4 linked regions of the Homo sapiens genome follow. The protein of the gene in region 4 purifies or fractionates together with the protein of the main gene of each other region. This does not show direct contact. Each region holds a gene or a part of one and is shown on either strand. Other genes may lie near its edges.

Evidence for each region.
Region 1: the proteins of ARX (region 4) and MIGA1 purify together in Homo sapiens (affinity purification with mass spectrometry, with the first as the bait; one large-scale study listed by BioGRID). This does not show direct contact.
Region 2: the proteins of ARX (region 4) and CD99L2 purify together in Homo sapiens (affinity purification with mass spectrometry; one large-scale study listed by BioGRID and IntAct). This does not show direct contact.
Region 3: the proteins of ARX (region 4) and GTSE1 purify together in Homo sapiens (affinity purification with mass spectrometry; one large-scale study listed by BioGRID and IntAct). This does not show direct contact.

The regions. Positions count from the first base shown.
Region 1 is NC_000001.11:77,859,649-77,863,878, forward strand, and holds part of MIGA1 (mitoguardin 1), read left to right. Parts: intron 1-391; coding exon 392-478; intron 479-1,575; coding exon 1,576-1,674; intron 1,675-4,230. UniProt on the Homo sapiens protein: Regulator of mitochondrial fusion: acts by forming homo- and heterodimers at the mitochondrial outer membrane and facilitating the formation of PLD6/MitoPLD dimers. May act by regulating phospholipid metabolism via PLD6/MitoPLD.
Region 2 is NC_000023.11:150,793,439-150,797,668, reverse strand, and holds part of CD99L2 (CD99 antigen-like protein 2 isoform 1 precursor), read left to right. Parts: intron 1-2,182; coding exon 2,183-2,251; intron 2,252-2,379; coding exon 2,380-2,463; intron 2,464-3,912; coding exon 3,913-3,978; intron 3,979-4,230. UniProt on the Homo sapiens protein: Plays a role in a late step of leukocyte extravasation helping cells to overcome the endothelial basement membrane. Acts at the same site as, but independently of, PECAM1.
Region 3 is NC_000022.11:46,310,370-46,314,599, forward strand, and holds part of GTSE1 (G2 and S phase-expressed protein 1), read left to right. Parts: intron 1-1,771; coding exon 1,772-1,936; intron 1,937-3,520; coding exon 3,521-3,644; intron 3,645-4,230. UniProt on the Homo sapiens protein: May be involved in p53-induced cell cycle arrest in G2/M phase by interfering with microtubule rearrangements that are required to enter mitosis. Overexpression delays G2/M phase progression.
Region 4 is NC_000023.11:25,005,309-25,010,268, reverse strand, and holds part of ARX (homeobox protein ARX), read left to right. Parts: coding exon 1-9; intron 10-2,829; coding exon 2,830-3,158; intron 3,159-4,960. UniProt on the Homo sapiens protein: Transcription factor. Binds to specific sequence motif 5'-TAATTA-3' in regulatory elements of target genes, such as histone demethylase KDM5C. Positively modulates transcription of KDM5C.

The sequences.
Region 1 (4,230 bases), on a different chromosome or scaffold from region 4:
GGCTGCTTAAAATAAAAACACTCTTTCTTATTAATTAGTGTGTATTTGAGATTTAATTTCAGTCAATTATAAAATTGATTTTCTAAAAAGAAAATAACAAGAATATATTTGTTTTCTTATGTTTTGGGGCTATAGGAAATTTATTTGAGACTGTAATATGATTTTGAACAGAATTTAAATTCAAATTTAACTCCCTTTAATCTTTTTTTGACTATAGGTTTCAAGAGTTCTTTTTATTTTAGTAAATTAGGACTTTCTCTGTGAGCTGCCTGTTGAAATAGCACCACATGCAATGCATTAACTGTTTTAGGATTATTTGTGCTATTAAGTTGAATGTCCATTCACATTCATTATAGGTCTCTTTTTTCTTTGGGGATGAATATTTTTTCAGGTAATTCTTTCAGAATCAGCTAACAGGATATTCCTCGCTGAGAGCGGAAGGAAAATTTTATCAGCTTTAATTGTGAAAGCACGAAAGGTAAACTTGTTCTGTTGGCAAGATTTTTACCATTTACAAAAGTTGTTTTTACCCTTTGAACTGAAGATTAAGACATTAAATTTTTGATAGAAGAAAAATTTTTGTGGATAGTTGAAAAGGGCATTAAGTTATGCTCGGGTTGAACTATGTATAAAGTCCACACTATTTCAACCAAGTTGTTTCTCATAAATTATTTCCAGTTTGCCATAAACTCTGTAAATGTCATGGTGAGAATTATCATTAGATCTGCTGCTATAACCATCACTGTTATTATTACTAATGCCTCCTCTTTTATTACCTCAATCCTGTTCAGGAAGAGGGTTACAGGAAATAGCGTAGGTCTCAGAAATCTGGAATACAAATTGAACTGCCTCATCTTCATGTAGTTGAATGAGGCAGAAGCAATGACAAGAACTTCATTCAGACTGTAAGGAACCACCTTACTTTATGCAAGGTTTGTCCAGATGATGATAAAACAAAACAAGCCTTCCTTGAGCCATTTGCACACCTAGTTTTCAGACTCAATCCCTTTGAACTTTAATTCTTTCATTTATATAATAGAATTGTATTTATATTACCTCATTTCAGAGGGTTTTTAGGATGATTAAATAAATGATAAATGGGAAGCAACTTAAAGAATAAAGTGTTAAGTAGTGTAAAGCTAAGTATATGTAAGGTGATACTATTAATACATGCAATTCCCAATGTAAGTCTTGTGTTGCTTTCTTGGCCTTCTCATGACAGATAAACTCAGTGATTTGAACTAGGGTTCCTCCAAAAGAAGCAGAACTGCAACAAAAGCCTCACATAATGTCTGCTATAACCAAATTTTCATTTTAATTACTGACCAAAATAGGCATACATATTTGAGTAATAAATAGTTTGCTTGTGACATTTTACTGACATTCTTTATCTTGGCTTCTGCAAAATGTTGCAATAGCAAAGTAGTAAACCAGATAAATTTGGCATACCTTTAAAATGTATTTTAGTTCAGTTACCTAGTAGAATTAAGATCTACCAGACTTATTTGAAGAGTAACTTTCTTTGTAGCTTGTTATAAAGTTGAGTTTAGGGTTAAAATGTGTTTTCTTCTTCAGAATCCAAAGAAGTTTGAAGATGTTTTTGATGAAATGATCTATTTTTTAGAGCAGACCGATCACTGGGGTAGTACTGAAATGGAACTTGCTGCTAGAGGGGTAAATTCAAATTTTTTGTGATATTTATTTTTCTTAGTTATTTGCATGTAATTTTATATGAGTTGAGACTACTGTTTCATTGTCCTTGTTAAATAAAGCCAATTGTATGGTTGTGGGACATCTTTTTTTCTGACGAAGTCATAAACCACACTCCTTGTACGTTGGGGCAGTAGTTGTAAATTGTTTTCTAAGAAGCCTTTTTTGCTGTTGTTGGCTCCTTGCTTCCTTCCCTCCTGTCCTCCTTCCCTTGTTCCCTCTCTTCCTTCTCTCCAAAAGTCATTGGCAGGCCCCTAGCAGGACAGGAATGGTGGCCCATGCAAGGACAGCTTTGGGTAGTACAACAGCAGCAGCTCAGTAGGGCTGGGGAATTGGCTGTATACACAAGACTGAACAAATAAGTATACTGAGAAAAATCAGAGCCAGCTTTTCCCTGTGAGAGAAGGGAGGTATAAAATGCTGGGATTGGAATTGGAGCTGTCAGTGTGAGTTCACAGTTTATAATATATATGTAGATACAGATATAGAAATAAATATCGGTCCAGGCATGGTGGCTCACGCCTGTAATCCCAGCACTTTGGGAGGCTGAGGCGGGCGGATCACCTGAGGTCAGGAGTTTGAGACCAACCTAGCCAACATGGAAAAACCTTGTCTCTACTGAAAATACAAAAATTAGCTGGGTATAGTGGCTCACGCCTGTAATCCCAACTACTCGGGAGGCCAAGGAACGAGAATTGCTTGAACCTGGGAGGTGGAGGCGGCAGTGAGCCAAGATCGTGCCACTGTACTCCAGCCTGGGTGACAGAACGAGACTCTGTCTCAAAAAATATATAGATATAGATATTGGTCAGGCATGGTGGCTCACGCCTGTAATCCCAGCACTTTGGGAGGCTGAGGCGGGCGGATCACCTGAGGTCAGGAGTTCGAGACCAACCTAGCCAACATGGCAAAACCTCATCTCTACTGAAAATACAAAAATTAGCCAGGTGTAGTGGCTCACGCCTGTAATCCCAACTACTCGGGAGGCCAAGGAATGAGAATTGCTTGAACCTGGGAGGTGGAGGTGGCAGAGAGTCAAGATCGCGCCACTGTACTCCAGCCTGGGTGACAGAACAAGACTCTGGCTCAAAAAATATATAGATATAGATATCGGTCCGGCATGGTGGCTCACGCCTGTAATCCCAGCACTTTGGGAGGCTGAGACGGGCAGATCGTGAGGTCAGGAGTTTAAGACCAGCCTGACCAACATGGTGAAACCTGTCTCTACTAAAAATACAAAAATTAGCCAGGCATGGAGCGCATGCCTGTAATCCCAGCCTGGGTGGCAGAGCGAGACTCCGTCACACACACACACAAAAGGAATGAAATCCCAGCACTTTGGGAGGCCGAGGCGGGCAGATCACTTGAGGCCAGGAGTTTGAGATCAGCCAGGCCAACATGGTGAAGCCCTGTCTCCACTAAAAATACAAAAATTAGCCAGGCATGGTGGTGCATGCCTGTAATCCCAGCTACTCAGGAGGGTGAGGCAAGAGAATCACTTGAACCCAGGAGGTGGAGGCTGCAGTAAGCCGAGATCGTGCCAGTGCACTCCAGCCTGGGTGACAGAGCAAGACTCTGTCTCAGAAGCAAAAAAAAAAAAAAAGAGTGAGTTTACAAGCAGCTGAAAGGCCTTCTAGGCAGAGAAAACAGTGGATACAACAAATACATGAAGACTTAATTTTTCCTTTTCTAGTGTTCCCTTATTCAGGAAATGAAATCAGTATCCATTTACTTCTGCAGGCCAGCAACCTGAGACTCATCCTTCACCTCTCCCTGATGCTCACCCATTTTATCATATTCATCTCTAATTTTGTCAGTTTTAACTCCTAAATATCTTTCAGTTTCTTCGACTTTTCTCTCTTTCTGTCACCCCTCTTGGCCTAAGTGCCTGTTGTCTTTTCTCTGGGCTACATCAGTAGTCTTTATATTTCCCGATTCCCTGCTCACTCCTTTCCTCCCTGCATTCATTCTTTCCCCTGTTTCATTCTCCACATTTCTGCCAAAATGATACAGCACACTATACTTTTTCCTTTATTGTGCTTCACACAGTTCATAATTGGATATTTGCAGGATTATTTTGTTGCTGTTTTCCCCACTATACTCTAGGCGTCTAATTTGCTTACTCTAGAAGTTTGAGCACTTGGTACAGCATGTAGTATGTAGAGTGTGTATGTATGAATGAATGAAAGAGCAAGATGTTCATGATCTGGTGGGGAAGACAGGCACATATACCAGTAACTAAATAACAAGGCAGAATGAGCATCCTGGATGTTATAATAGAAGCGTGAACAAAGGACTCCTAGAATAGAGAGGAGGAGAGATTATTTTCACTTGAGATCTAGGAAGGAGCAGCGATAATGTGAATTCGTAATTTCTAGTGGCGAGCTTTCATATTTATCTCTCCTTTTATTTTTTATTTTTGAATAAGCTGATTAAAAAAAACCCCTGCTGTTATAAAACCATAAAGCCCTGGCTCAGATTTTATTTCAGCTCTATGTAATAATAATTTCTGTTTCAACT
Region 2 (4,230 bases), about 130 Mb from region 4:
TTTTAAAATCAGGAAGTGTGACTCTTCTATGTTCTTTTTCTAGATTGTTTTGGCTGTTTGAGATTCCTTGAAATTCCATGTGAATTTTAGGATGAATTTGTCTATTTCTGCAACAAATGTCATTGGGATTTTGGTAGGGATTCCATTGAATCTGTAGATTGCTTTAGATAGTATGCATTGCCATTTTAACAATTTAGTGTCTTCTAATCCATGAACACAGGATTAGGTTGTATTTTGATAGTTGGTGGTTTTTGAGAAATTGGTCCATTTCTTCCAAGTTGTCAAATATGTGAGCTAAAAAATGTTCATATTATTCCATTATTATTCTTTTAATGGTTACAAGATCTACAGTGTCCCATTTCAGTCCTTTTATTGGCATATCATCTTTTTTAACTTTTATGTTTGTTAGTAAGGCTAGCGGTTTATCCCTTTTTACTGTATAAATAAACTTTTGGTTTTATTGATTTTTTTTTAGTATTGCATTCTTATTTTCAGTTTCATGGATCTCTGCTCTTGTGTTTATTTTTTCCATCTGCTTGCTTTGGTTTTGTTTTTCTAGTATCTAGCTAGCTTCTTTTTCTAGCATCTTGAATTAGTAACTTAGATTATTGATTTGAGGCTCTTCTTCATGTCTAACTTATGCATTGAGTGCTATAAACTTCTCTCTGCACTGCTTTAGATCCCACATATTTTGCTATGTTGTGTTTTCATTTTCACACAGTTCTATGTATTTTTTAAAATTTCCTTTGAAACTTTTTCTTTGACCCTTGTTTTATTTAGAAATATGTTGTTTAATATCCAAATGTTTAGAGATTTTCTTGTTTTCTGTTGTTTCTTCTCTGTTTCTAATTTGAATTAAGTATAATCAATGATACCTCTCTGCATAATTTCAATACTTTTAAATTTGTTGAAGTTTATTTCCTGGTTCAGAATATGATCTCAGGTGAATATTCTGTGAGTGCTTAAACAATTGTTTACTCTGCTGTAATTGGCTGGTGTGTCCTGTTGTGCCAATTAAATCCCATTGGTTGATTATTGTTCACTCCTTCAATATCCTTGTAGATTTTCTGTCTAGTAGTTCTACCAATTGCTGAGAGTGGAGTGTTGAAGTCCCCAACTATAAATGTGCATTTGCTTATTTCTCCTTTTAGCTCTATCAGGTTTTACTTAATGTGTCTAGACACTCTATTGTTAGGTGCACACACATTCAGGATTGTTACGTCTTCCTGGTGGATTGATCCTTTTATCATTTTATAATATCCCTCTTCATTCCATCTGAGAACTGTTGGGTTATGACTTGACTTACTGTATTGTTTTTGTATTTTCTTTGCAGAAGATTCAGACCTACATTTCTTTGATCCACAGACAACACCAAAGGTCTATCGAAAAATGATAGGCAATACATTTTAAATGTCCCTAGGCAGTTTGGATATCACATTATTGCTCTGTAAAACTCATTTAGGTTTTTTCCCCAGATACATCGCTGTTTCTCTCCCAGGTGCTTGCTGTATACAGCACTGTCTCTGTCTTTTCCCTCTATTAACTTCAATAGTGGGAACAGTTACAGCACAGTCTTCTGAAGTTCAAGAGAAGAATCATTTGGAAAATTCATGAATGCCATCTGTGTAATTGGTGTGAAAGAAGTCCATATTTGAAAGGAATCTGGTTGAGCCCAGAGACCTGATGTTTATAATAGTAACCACAGTTATATAAAATTATATATGTGTGTGTTGTAAGCACTTTCCGTGTATAAGATACTACCACAGTCCACTGGGAATGCATCCTCAATCTGTCCATCCCTGGGCAGGATTAGCTATAGTTCAAGTGCCAGGTTGACAGTGGTGGAACCAAGGCTTGGAGCTCAAGCTCTAGAACTCCTCGGTCCATGTGGTCATCTCCCGCAGATCTGGGCTCAAGTCCCAGCTTTGCCACTTACCTGGCCACATGTGGGACTATGTCTGCCTCATAACCCCCATCCCCTGAAGAAAAGTGAACAGAACCCACCTCATTTAAGCCTTTTATATCTCTTTGTCATCCGTCTCAAAGTGATTCTGCAGAGGTCCTATAGGAGCCTCAAGGACCAAGACAAGAATATTCATGATGTGACTTCCCTGAGCCATGAATGGCTGCTGCATTTTGTTCCTAAATGTGCTCCCTTTGCTGTCCTCCCTTCCCCTTTTAGAGAGATGGAACCATGTAACCACCACGACCAAGAGGCCAGTAACCACCAGAGCTCCAGCAAATACTTTAGGTAAGGTGGCCGCTCTGAGGAGAGTAGTAAGGCAAGGATCCCATGGGGCTCCCTCTGAGACAGGATCCAAATGAGCTACCCATAGATGAACTAATTGAGTATTTCTTTTATTTTGGGACCCCATGAAGGAAATGATTTTGACTTGGCTGATGCCCTGGATGATCGAAATGATCGAGATGATGGCCGCAGGAAACCAATTGCTGGAGGAGGAGGTGAGTCCCACCTGGTCTGGTTCTGTCTCATTAATTACATCATCCCACAGAGCCAGAGCCAGCTTGGGCCTGGCAGAGCTGGAGGCACTTCAAGCCACTGGAGAACCCTATAATGGTGGTACTCAAACTTTTTTGGTCTGGGGACTCCTGAAATCATTGAGATCTCAAGAGAGATTTTGCTTATGTGGGTCACGTTTATCAATACTCATCATCTTAGAATTTAAAACTGAAAGACTTTATTAATCAATCTAAAATGAACAACATTAAACCCATACATTTAACATAAATAACATTTTTATGAGAAATAACTATGCTTGGCAAGACAAAAACTTGTATTGAGGAGAGCGGCACGCTGTTACATTTTTGCAGATTTCTCTCATGTCTGGCTGGATGGAAGCAGCTGGCTTCTCACAGGCACTTTATTCCATCGTGAGATGTTGTTTTGGTTGAAGTATATGAAGGAAATCTGGCCTCACACCCATAGGCAGTGGGGAAAGGGAGGAATATTTTCACAGACTTTTCAGATCCTTGTGGATAATCTTCTCGGATAGGACACCAAAACTTGGCCCCAACAAAAGCGGTTGTTTGTTACAGGTTAAGCGTAGTGTGGAGTGTGAAACTCTTATCAGTGAACTTTCCACACTTGGTTCCGTGGGACTATCTTGTCCTTTCAGTGGACCTTTTACCCGTTCATAAATTTTCTGCTTCCTTGTGTCAGTTTCCTTGCTGCATAACAAAAATCAGAAACTCTGAGTTAAGGCAACACCCATTTATTATCCCACTGTTTCCTTTGGTCCGGAGTTGAGGAACAGCTAAGCTGAGTTTTCTGCTCAGGAGCTCATATAGCTGCAGTCAAGGTGTTGGTGAGGGCTGGGGTCTCGTCTGAAGTTGGGTTCCCTTCCAAGCTCAATTGCTTGTTGACAGTACATTCCCTTGCAGCTATAGGAATAATGACTGCTTGCTGCTTCAAGACTAGCAGGAGAATGACCAACAGACGGGTTGGTAGGGGGAGAAAGGAGGAGAGACCGACCGACTCTGTTGCTTCTCATGTCTGAGCTCAGAGAAGGCCTGAACCTGCTTTTGAGGATGTCACCTGATTAAGTCATGCCCATCTAGGATAATCTCCTTTTTGATGAATGCAAAGTCAAATTGATTTGGTACCTTAATCACCTCTGCAAAATCCCTTCACCTTTGGCATGTAATCTAACCTAATCACGGGAGTGATATAGCCATCCTATCCATGGTTCCACTCACACTCAGAGTGGTGGGACATTATGCGGGACATGTACACCAGTGGGAGGGGGTCTGGGGGGACCTCTTAGAATTTCATGAAGGGCATTCTTAAGTGGAACTGGGAATCATTTTCTGAATTTTGGGCAACATTAGCACAAGTTTCTTGTTGCTGATTTTTTTTTCTTGTTGTTGAAATGTATGTTTTATTTTCTCCAGGTTTTTCAGACAAGGATCTTGAAGACATAGTAGGGGGTGGAGAATACAAACCTGACAAGGGTAAAGGTAGGAGCATTGATTTGTGCCAACACAACCCTTATTCTGGTGAAAAAGGTGATTATGCAGCAACCAGATTAATTGAGCCTCTGGGAAATGAGTGGTAGTTCCCAGACATCCCAGCCTGCCAGTTGGGGTTCATTTGGAATGATGTGAGCCATGCAGTTCAAGGGGGGGATTTATAAGCCATCTTGGAAAAGCCCCACATTTCCCCTGATGTTCCTTAAGCAGCAGTGCTGATAGGTTAACGTTTCATGCTGG
Region 3 (4,230 bases), on a different chromosome or scaffold from region 4:
GTGAAATGGGGCAGCTGTTGTGGAAACAGTTTGGCAGCTCCTCAAAAAAATAAATGTAGAGGGTCCCATGGGACCCAGCAATTCCACTCCTTAGTACACAGACCTGAGAGAATTGAAACCATATCCACAGAAAAATCCACATGCAGATGTTCGAAGCAGCATTATTCATAACAGCCAAAAAAGTAGGACCAACCCAGGCATCCAGCAAATGATGATTGGGTAACGAAAATGCAGTCTATCCAAACAATGGTTTATTTTTGGCAATAAAAAGAAACACTACTGGGCGTGGTAGCTCACACCTGTGATCACAGCACTTTGGGAAGCCAAGGTGGGCGAATCACCTGAGGTCAGGAGTTTGAGCCCAGCCCGGCCAACATGGTGAAACCCCGTCTCTACAAAAAAATACAAAAATTAGCCAAGTATGGTGGTGCACACCTGTAATCCCAGCTACTTGGGAGGCTGAGGCAGGAGAATCGCCTGAACCCAGGAGGTGGAGGTTGCAGTGAGCCAAGATGGCACCACTGAAAACATTTTGCTCAGTGAGAGAGGCCATAACAAAAGGTCCCATGTCGTATGGTTCCATTTATATGAAATGACTATGACAGGCCAATGACAGAGGCGTGGTTGAGTGCTTCCCTAGGTGGGGCTGGGGAGGATGAGGGAAAGGGGAGAACCGCTAATGGGTACAGGTTGTTTTTTTTTTTGTTTTGTTTTGTTTTGTTTCTGAGACAGAGTTTTGCTCTTGTTGCCGAGGCAGGAGTGCAATGGTGCAATCTCGGCTCACTGCATCCTCTGCCTCTCGGGTTCAAGCAGTCCTCCTGTCTCAGCCTCCCGAGTAGCTGGGATTACAGGCGCCCGCCACCACGCCCGGCTAATTTTTGTATTTTTAGTAGAGACAGGGTTTCATCATATTAGTCAGGCTGGTCTCAAACTCCTGGCCTCAGGTGATCTGCCCGCCTCGGCCTCACAAAGTGCTGGGATTACAGGCGTGAGCCACTGCACCCGGCCGAGTACAGGTTCTTTTTTGGGACACCACTATATTTTAAGATTAGCTTGTGCTGGTTGTACAACATAACAGATCTACTAAAAACCACTGAAGTATACTGTTTAAAATAGTGAATTTTATGTTATGAGAAGTATCTCAGTTTTTAGAAATGCTATAAAGGGAAAAAGTTACTGCTGCGTCTTTACCACTCTGAGCTTCTATTGCTGTTACCTTATTAACTCTCCTGTTATAAGGGGGCTATTTATGTAAGTATAAATTAGTTCCATGAATGCCCTTGTCCCTAAATATGTCAAGAACTTATTTTTTGACTCTGCTGGCCAAAGAAAATGGCTTTCAGTACTAGACCAAGAAGATTTATTGCAATTGAGCAGCTTCTCTGGTAGAGATGACCATTTAATGGATGAGTCCTTTCTGTACAGCATTTTAAAATTTGTGTAACTAGACCAGCTTTCTCATTATCATTCTTAAATAAGGATCCTGACTGGGGAATGGCTTTAGAGAACCTCTCTCCTATTAATGATCTGTGTAGGTATCATTTGATGCTGTTTTTAATGAGGAAGCAAAATCCATCATCACTTATGTCCATAGTGATTTGGTGGAGGATGCGAACTGCTTGCCCTGTTCCCTTCAATCTGGCTGATGAATGGAGGGGCATGTGTAGCACTGGGGAAGATGGGGCCTAGGCTCGCTCTGAATGGAAGCCTGAGTATCTCTGTACATTGTTAAGCACTAGACAGTTCTCACAGTTCAAATTAAAATTTTCAGCCCAAGAAAGAGATTCCAGCTAGTCCTTCCAGGACAAAAATCCCAGCTGAGAAGGAATCCCACCGGGATGTTCTCCCTGACAAACCTGCCCCGGGTGCTGTCAATGTGCCGGCCGCCGGAAGCCACTTGGGCCAGGGCAAGCGGGCGATCCCTGTTCCAAACAAGGTGAGTTGGCTGCTGGGGCCCAAACTTGTGGTTGCTGGGAATGAGGTGGCAGCTGTGTGTACAAGTGCTTTGGATTAAAATCCCAGCATTTTGGGAGGCCAAGGTGGGAGGATCACTTGAGCCCAGGAGTTCAAGACCAGCCTGAGCAACATGATGAAACCCATCTCTACAAAAAATACAAAAATTAGCTGGGCATGGTGGTGAGCAACGGCAGTCCCAGCTACTCAGGAGGCTGAGGTGGGATGATTGCTTGAGCCCAGGAGGTCGAGGCTGCAGTGAGTCATAATCACGCCACTGCACTCCAGGTTGGGTGACAGAATGAGACCCTGTCTCAAAAAAAAAAAAAAAAAAGAGGTGGAAAAGTTGAAAATACACCCACAAGAGGCAGCCTGCAAAATACATGCAAAGAATACTGGCTTCGCAGTGTGCACTGATGGCTAGCCTCTGCCCTGGGAGCTGTGTGGGTTGGGAAAAGTCAGCGTCTCGGAGCCCCAGTTTGTAGGTGGGGATATTCCGTTTCCCTCATGTAGAGTTCTTGAACAGATGACATGAGATGTTGATGTTTTGAAAACAGCAGCTGGGTGCAGTGGCTCACACATGTAATCTCAGCACTTTGGGAGGCTGAGGCGGGAGGATCACTTGAGCCCAGGAGTTTGAGACCAGCCTGGGCAACATAGTGAGGCCCCCATCTCCATTAAAAAATAAAAATCAGCCAGGCATGGTGGTGCATGCCTGTGGTCCCAGCTATTTGGGAGGTTGAGGTGGGAGGATTGCTTGAGCCCAGGAGGTCAAGGCTGCAGTGAGCTGTGATCATGCCACTGCATTCCATTCCAGCCTGGGCAACAGAGTGAGACCCTGTCTAAAAAAAAAAAAAAAAAAAAGGAAAAGAAAGAAAATTGCGGTTCCTCACAGGCATGGAGACTACCAGCCACATCTTTGCCACTTATTTTCTGGCATTGGCGGTAAACCAAGCTGTGTGTACTGGCAGTTCTTGTTAGAACTGCCCAAAGCTGGGCCCTGCAGCTGCTGACTCATGGGGTCTGGGTTGGGGCCCCAAATCTGCATTTCTGCTAGCTCCCTAATGTGGTCCTCATGCAGGGGTTTGAAGACTACACTTTGAGAAGTGCTGCTTGACTTTTTTCTTCTTTAAATTCAAGATGATAATTATTAGATTATTTTAAAATAGTAAAAACACCAACTTTTGTTGTTGTTGTTGTTGTTGAGACGGAGTCTCACTCTGTCGCCCAGGCTGGAGTGCAATGGCACGAGCTCAGCTCACTACAACCTCCACCTCCCGGGTTCAAGCAATTCTCCTACCTCAGCCTCCCGAGTAGCTGGGACTACAGGTGCCTGCCACCATGCCCAGCTAGTTTTTATATTTTTAGTAGAGACAAGGTTTCACCATATTGGCCAGGCTGGTCTCAAACTCCTGACCTTGTGATCCTCCGGCCTCAGCCTCCCAAAGTGCTGGGATTACAGGCGTGAGCCACCGTGCCCAGCCAAAAACCCCTTACTTTTGCAGACACAAGTAATAGGTAAATAACGAGATCTTTGCTGATTCTGTTTTTTCACATTTTGCCCCAGTTGGGGCTGAAGAAGACCCTGTTAAAAGCACCCGGCTCTACCAGCAATCTCGCAAGGAAGTCCTCCTCGGGGCCTGTTTGGAGCGGGGCATCCAGTGCGTGCACATCCCCAGCAGTGGGCAAAGGTGAGGCAGCCGGCATCATGCTTGGACCCACATCTGGCCAGGTGAGGCCTGGAGTGCTGCTCAGGCCTTGGAGACTGTTTCTGCAGAACCACTTAGGCTTGGCAGGACGTCCCGGAGGGCGTGCTGTGTGCGGTGGACCAGGCTGTGGACTGAGTTGCTGTACCTGCCCTCAGTGCCTCTGTCCCATGAGGAGGGCACACTCAGATGGGTGGCTTCAGTCTACGGGGTACACATGGCCAGAAAGCATGTATGATACCCCGTGCCTGAGAACATGGACACTGGAATCACCCTCATGTCCATGTCATGAGACACCAGTTTTAAAATAGGACTATTCCAGATAATGTAGGGCATATGGCCCCATAACTCCTGGGTGCCTGTTTAAATCCATGCTCCCACACCTGTTTGAGGTCAAGCCACATTTCAACCTTGCCAAGCCACAGCTGCCATCTAGTGGTAAGGGAAAGCCTTCGCCTTTCTGCTCTTCAGAGCGAAATCCTCTTCGAGGTGCATTGGCCATGTGGCGTCTCGGGGTCGTTCAGGGCAGCATGGTGTGGATTGTGTTCACAAAATGTAAAAAGTGGGCCGG
Region 4 (4,960 bases):
CGAGTCCAGGTGAGCTGCACAACAGAGGGAAGAGGGAGGGAGGAGGGCTGGGGGCCAGTGGGAGAGAGAGAGATGGGTTGGTGGCGGGGGGGTGCGGGGGGTGAGATCCCCTTCACAAAACCAAGAGAAGCAGGATCAGAAAAGTAGACCCAAGCACTCTCTCACACACAAAGATATTTAAAACTTAAGACATGGGAGGTGGAAGCGGGAGGTTTCTGGGTTTGGGAGCCCAAGGAAGGAGTCCAGGATCAGAACAAGGGCTTTAGAGTCCCTGAGACTGCAGTTTGGGACCCCCTAGCCCCAAAGCTCCTATAGGAAACAATCCACCGATCTACTTCTCCTGATTGAAATAATGGGATGGAGCATGGATTTGGTTGTTAGACAAATCCGCTCAGTTCCAAGCAGGTATTTGGCTGCGATTAAGTCTCCAATCGGGCTTCATAAAAGCCCACTTAGTGCTAGAACAAACAGGGCCATTTGAAGGCAAAATGCTGTTTGATTTCCCCTCCGCCCCGCACAAGGAGCTGGCTAATGCTATTTGATTTCCCATTTTTTATAGCAATGAACCCACATTGATCTAATAGGGAGTGAGTGCAATGCTATTAAAGGTGTTTGCAGCCCCATACCAGAGTGCATTTCCGAACCCAGGCCTCATAACCAAAGAGACGATCAACACTGAGCAGCCCCGATGGCCAACAGAAAACAGATGTCCCCGAGTTAGGAGCTGAGTGAATCACTTTACAGTCAAAATCAAGCGCTGATAAAGCACAATAAATTCCATATGGCTCATTTAATACACAACAGCTTCTTGCATTAGAGGGCTAATGATGAGGCCTGTCCCCTCCTTTCTGTTGACACATTTCTCCATTGTCAAACAGAGATGTGACAGCAACTCCGTATTTTCAGCTCAGGGGAACAAGTCGTGGGAAAGTTAAATAACTTTTAAAAAGAAAGAGAGCGCCCCCTCCCTTTCTCCTCTCCCCCTATTCACTGGAGAAGATGTAATTAAGTGAATATGAATTATTAGAGTCCTTTCGTTTACCTTTGGGGGGCCTCAGAGGTATTAATTCAATAATGAGGAATTGCAGGGGGACATCTTGATAATTGCAGTTGAGCCGGGAGAGACGATCTGTCTGTAAAAAGGTTTCCACGTTCTTTGAGGGCATTCTGAGTCCACTGCCCCCAGTTCCCCTTCTTCTTTCACTGCGATCAAGGAGTGGCGGATATTCTTGTCTAGACAGATTTGGCTACACAAAAGCTGCCCACCCAGTCCGGTCCCATCTACAGTCTTACTTTTTCAAGCCTCTGGGTTTCCACACTGAAGTGTTTCTGAAATTCACAAATAGATTATTTTGAAGGCTGTGGAATGGTGTGAATGGGCCCCCTTTTGGCCGACTTGGAAGTAATTGACCGATTTGGATTCTTGATTTTTCTTGCCCTGGGGGGCTGTCTAGAAGTCAAACCAAGCTTAGATGCTAGTGCTGGTAACAACAAGCCCCAGTGTGTAGATTTGAAAAATATGGATGTGTTTCACATTTTAAAATATATTCCTCTGGGATAATTTACATTATATTTTAATATAACTCTGTATAGCCCTGGAGTTCATTCTTAATTTTCAGACTTGTGTGCAGTTATAAACCCAGCCCTAAAAATATTAATGCCTTCAGGGGAGAAGGAGCATATCTTCCCAGCTGTGGGTGTGATGAGCAGGTCACATAAAAATAATTTCATGCTCCTGGGGTTTATTTTTAGATGATGGTAGCTGCCATGTTTCAGGTAAAGGTCTCCATTAAAACCGCTTTCTATTAGCAATTAGGAAAATACCTCAGGCTGAAAACCTCCCTCCAAGCCTAAAACTATCTTATTTAAATAGCCGATTTAAAACACATCTCCAAAAGGAAATAAAAGACTTGTTAGCTCTGAAGATGTGAAAAGTCTACACCTATCATGCCCTCTGATTTCTATGCGCCCAGGTATTGCTGCCTGCTTCATCCATGTAGTCAGTGCCTTCCTGCATAGAACTGGGTCCTGCAGGGATCCCCTGCCAAGAGCAGGTTGTGTATCCCTGTTTCATTTCATAGAGGATTGACCCCCTGAAATGTATGCTTGCTAATTAACTCGAGCCTTTCTTCCCTCCCTCTCATCCCTCTCTGAACCCCAGAACCCAGCATAGTGCTCTTTGGTGTTCAATAAATGTTTCTGGAAAGAATAAATGAACTATCTTTCCACTTTCCTCTTCCATACAGAGCAAGAATTTTGCCAGCTCTTGCGTAAATCTGAAATAGGTGAAAATAGCTGATATGCAGTAAAACAAGCATGTCCCTCATCTCTTGGTGGCTGCCCATTCCCTAGAGTCACCATTGAATGCATGCTTTCACTTGCCTTATTTTACCCAGTTCTCATAACAGCCTTATGAGTGAAGTTTTATTATCCCCATTTTACAGATTCGAAAACTGAGGTTCAGAGAGGTTTAAGTGACCTGCCTAAAGATCCTAGCAAGCGTCAGCACAGACGTTTAAACTTTGGTTTCCCCAACTCTAAACACACTGAATCACTTTCCTTAAACTTGGAAAACTGGCCCAGGTGGAATGCCGGCAGAAAGGGTTTGCTTGTCCTGTTTCCTGCTGACTTGAAGTTGCGGCTCCTATTCACTGCTCATTTGGCCCCAGACGCGTCCGAAAACAACCTGAGGCCAAAGAGGGGCAGGTGGGCGCGGGCCGCGGTGGAAAGGAAGGGGGCCCCGCAGCGCGCCAAGGGAAGGGACGGGTAGGGGCCCGGTGCGCCCGCCGGGCCGAGCCGCGCCGACCCTGGGCTCTCTCTGCCTTGCAGGTCTGGTTCCAGAACCGTCGGGCCAAGTGGCGCAAGCGGGAGAAGGCAGGCGCGCAGACCCACCCCCCTGGGCTGCCCTTCCCGGGGCCGCTCTCCGCCACCCACCCGCTCAGCCCCTACCTGGACGCCAGCCCCTTCCCTCCGCACCACCCGGCGCTCGACTCCGCTTGGACTGCCGCTGCCGCCGCCGCCGCCGCCGCCTTCCCGAGCCTACCTCCGCCTCCGGGCTCGGCCAGCCTGCCGCCCAGCGGGGCGCCGCTGGGCCTGAGCACTTTCCTCGGAGCGGCAGTGTTCCGACACCCAGCTTTCATCAGCCCGGCATTCGGCAGGTAACGCGCAGCCTCGGAAGTCTGTCTGTCTGTCTGTCTCTCATACACACAGAGGCTGGGGGCAGGGAGGAGGCAGGAGTCAAACAGGGTTACACACATCTTTTTCTTTGACCCAACCTCAGAGACTGTAGCCAAAGAAAATACTCTCTAATTGAGCCTCAAAAAAAAAAATGTGGGTCTTGAAGGTATTGACTTGGAACTTAATGGGAAAGGGGAAGGCAGTGGCAGTAACGACAACCGTGACAACCGAGAATGAAAGCTGTAAAAGTACCATTTGCAGGCTGCAACAAGTCCCACCATAGGTGGTAAGCGAGCAAATATGTACAGGTGTAGGGTACAGAGCAGGGACGACTTTTTAAGTTTTGCAAAAGTTCTTCCTTATGCCCCCCAACCTGGCAGCCTGAGGAACACAGCCCTGATCCCCATGGGAGCCCTGGAGCCACCAGGCCCTCTGGGTGCACAGAATTCTTTCTTCTGCCCCAGACTCCATCTTCCTTGTCACTCAAGTGACCCGCTGCCAACGACACCCCCATATGTGCAAGCCCCGATCTACACGGCAGTACAAGACAACGAAATAAAAGAAACAGTTCATCTTATAACTCCCTTTCTTTAATGAACATCGAATGAGGAAATAAAAAGTCTGTATAATCACACAGACAAAGAAACAAAGGAGGGATGTATTGTGTTAGCGCAGTGAAAATAAAACTGGATGCAGCTTCAATGATCACTCTTTGGGAGAACAAAGAAATAATAGATTCATCCAACTGCGCAGCTGCTTAACAAAAAATCATCTTACAGAAAATTAAGACTCGGAGTAAATTTAGTTTCTTATAACAAACCAATAAAATAAACAGCGAGCGCACTGAAGCAGAGTTAGTGACTCAGTTTACCTAATGGAACCAGGGCATGTTACGCCACCTCCGGGTCACACTTTATCATTTCTTTCTGAGAAAAATCTTAAAGTTCTGTCTCTCCCCTCCCTCCACTTTTTCCCTCTGACAAGTGACTTGTAAACCCAGGCGAACCGTGGCTGGAGGACCGAGTTGCGAGATTCGGAGAGGCTGGAAGAGGGTCTGGGCTGGGGTGGTGCGAGGAGTGAGCAGTGGGCTTGGGAGAAGGAGGCGGCGCTCGGTGAGCCCAGGTGGGCTCATTTCTAACCCTGGAAATCCGGAATTGGCCCCGCGGGCCTGGAGCCAGACCCCTCAGGGAGGCGGTCGGGAAAGCTCGCGGGCGCTCCAAGGCGGTGGGCGTGGGGGTGGTGTCCGGTGGCCCCGGGCGGCTCCGGCCACAGCTAATGTCCCGGTGCTGTGTGCATGGGGTGGAAGCGTCACGTGGAGTAATTCGGTCGCCGCTTGGAGGCGGTGGCGCTGGCGTGGGTCCCAGGCTTGGGCATCGCCTTGCGCCGCGCGCCAGGGTCGTGGGTCGGGGGCTCCCTGAGGCCAGAGGCTACAGGGGCGCGGGGAAGACAGCTGGGGTCGCCGCGCCAGGATGTGGGGCTGCTGGCAGGTGACACCCGCCCGTGGAGCCGAAATCAACAGGCGGTCGCCCTTCACTCTCACCCGCAGGCGCTGGCCAGACGCGGGTAGCTGAGTCCCGCGCGGAAGGGCGGCCGCGGCGGCGCGGGTGGCCCGGGAGGCCGGCGAGCTAGGCCTGTTTCTTCAGGGCGCAGAAAGTCCCGGGCCAAGGAGCCGGAGGGAGATCTCAGAGCCTGCGGCGTGCGTCCGGGCAGCTGGAATCCCACCTTCTCCGTCTTTTTTTTCCTCCCCCCTCCCACCCTCCACCTTCCCTTCTTTTGCTCTCCT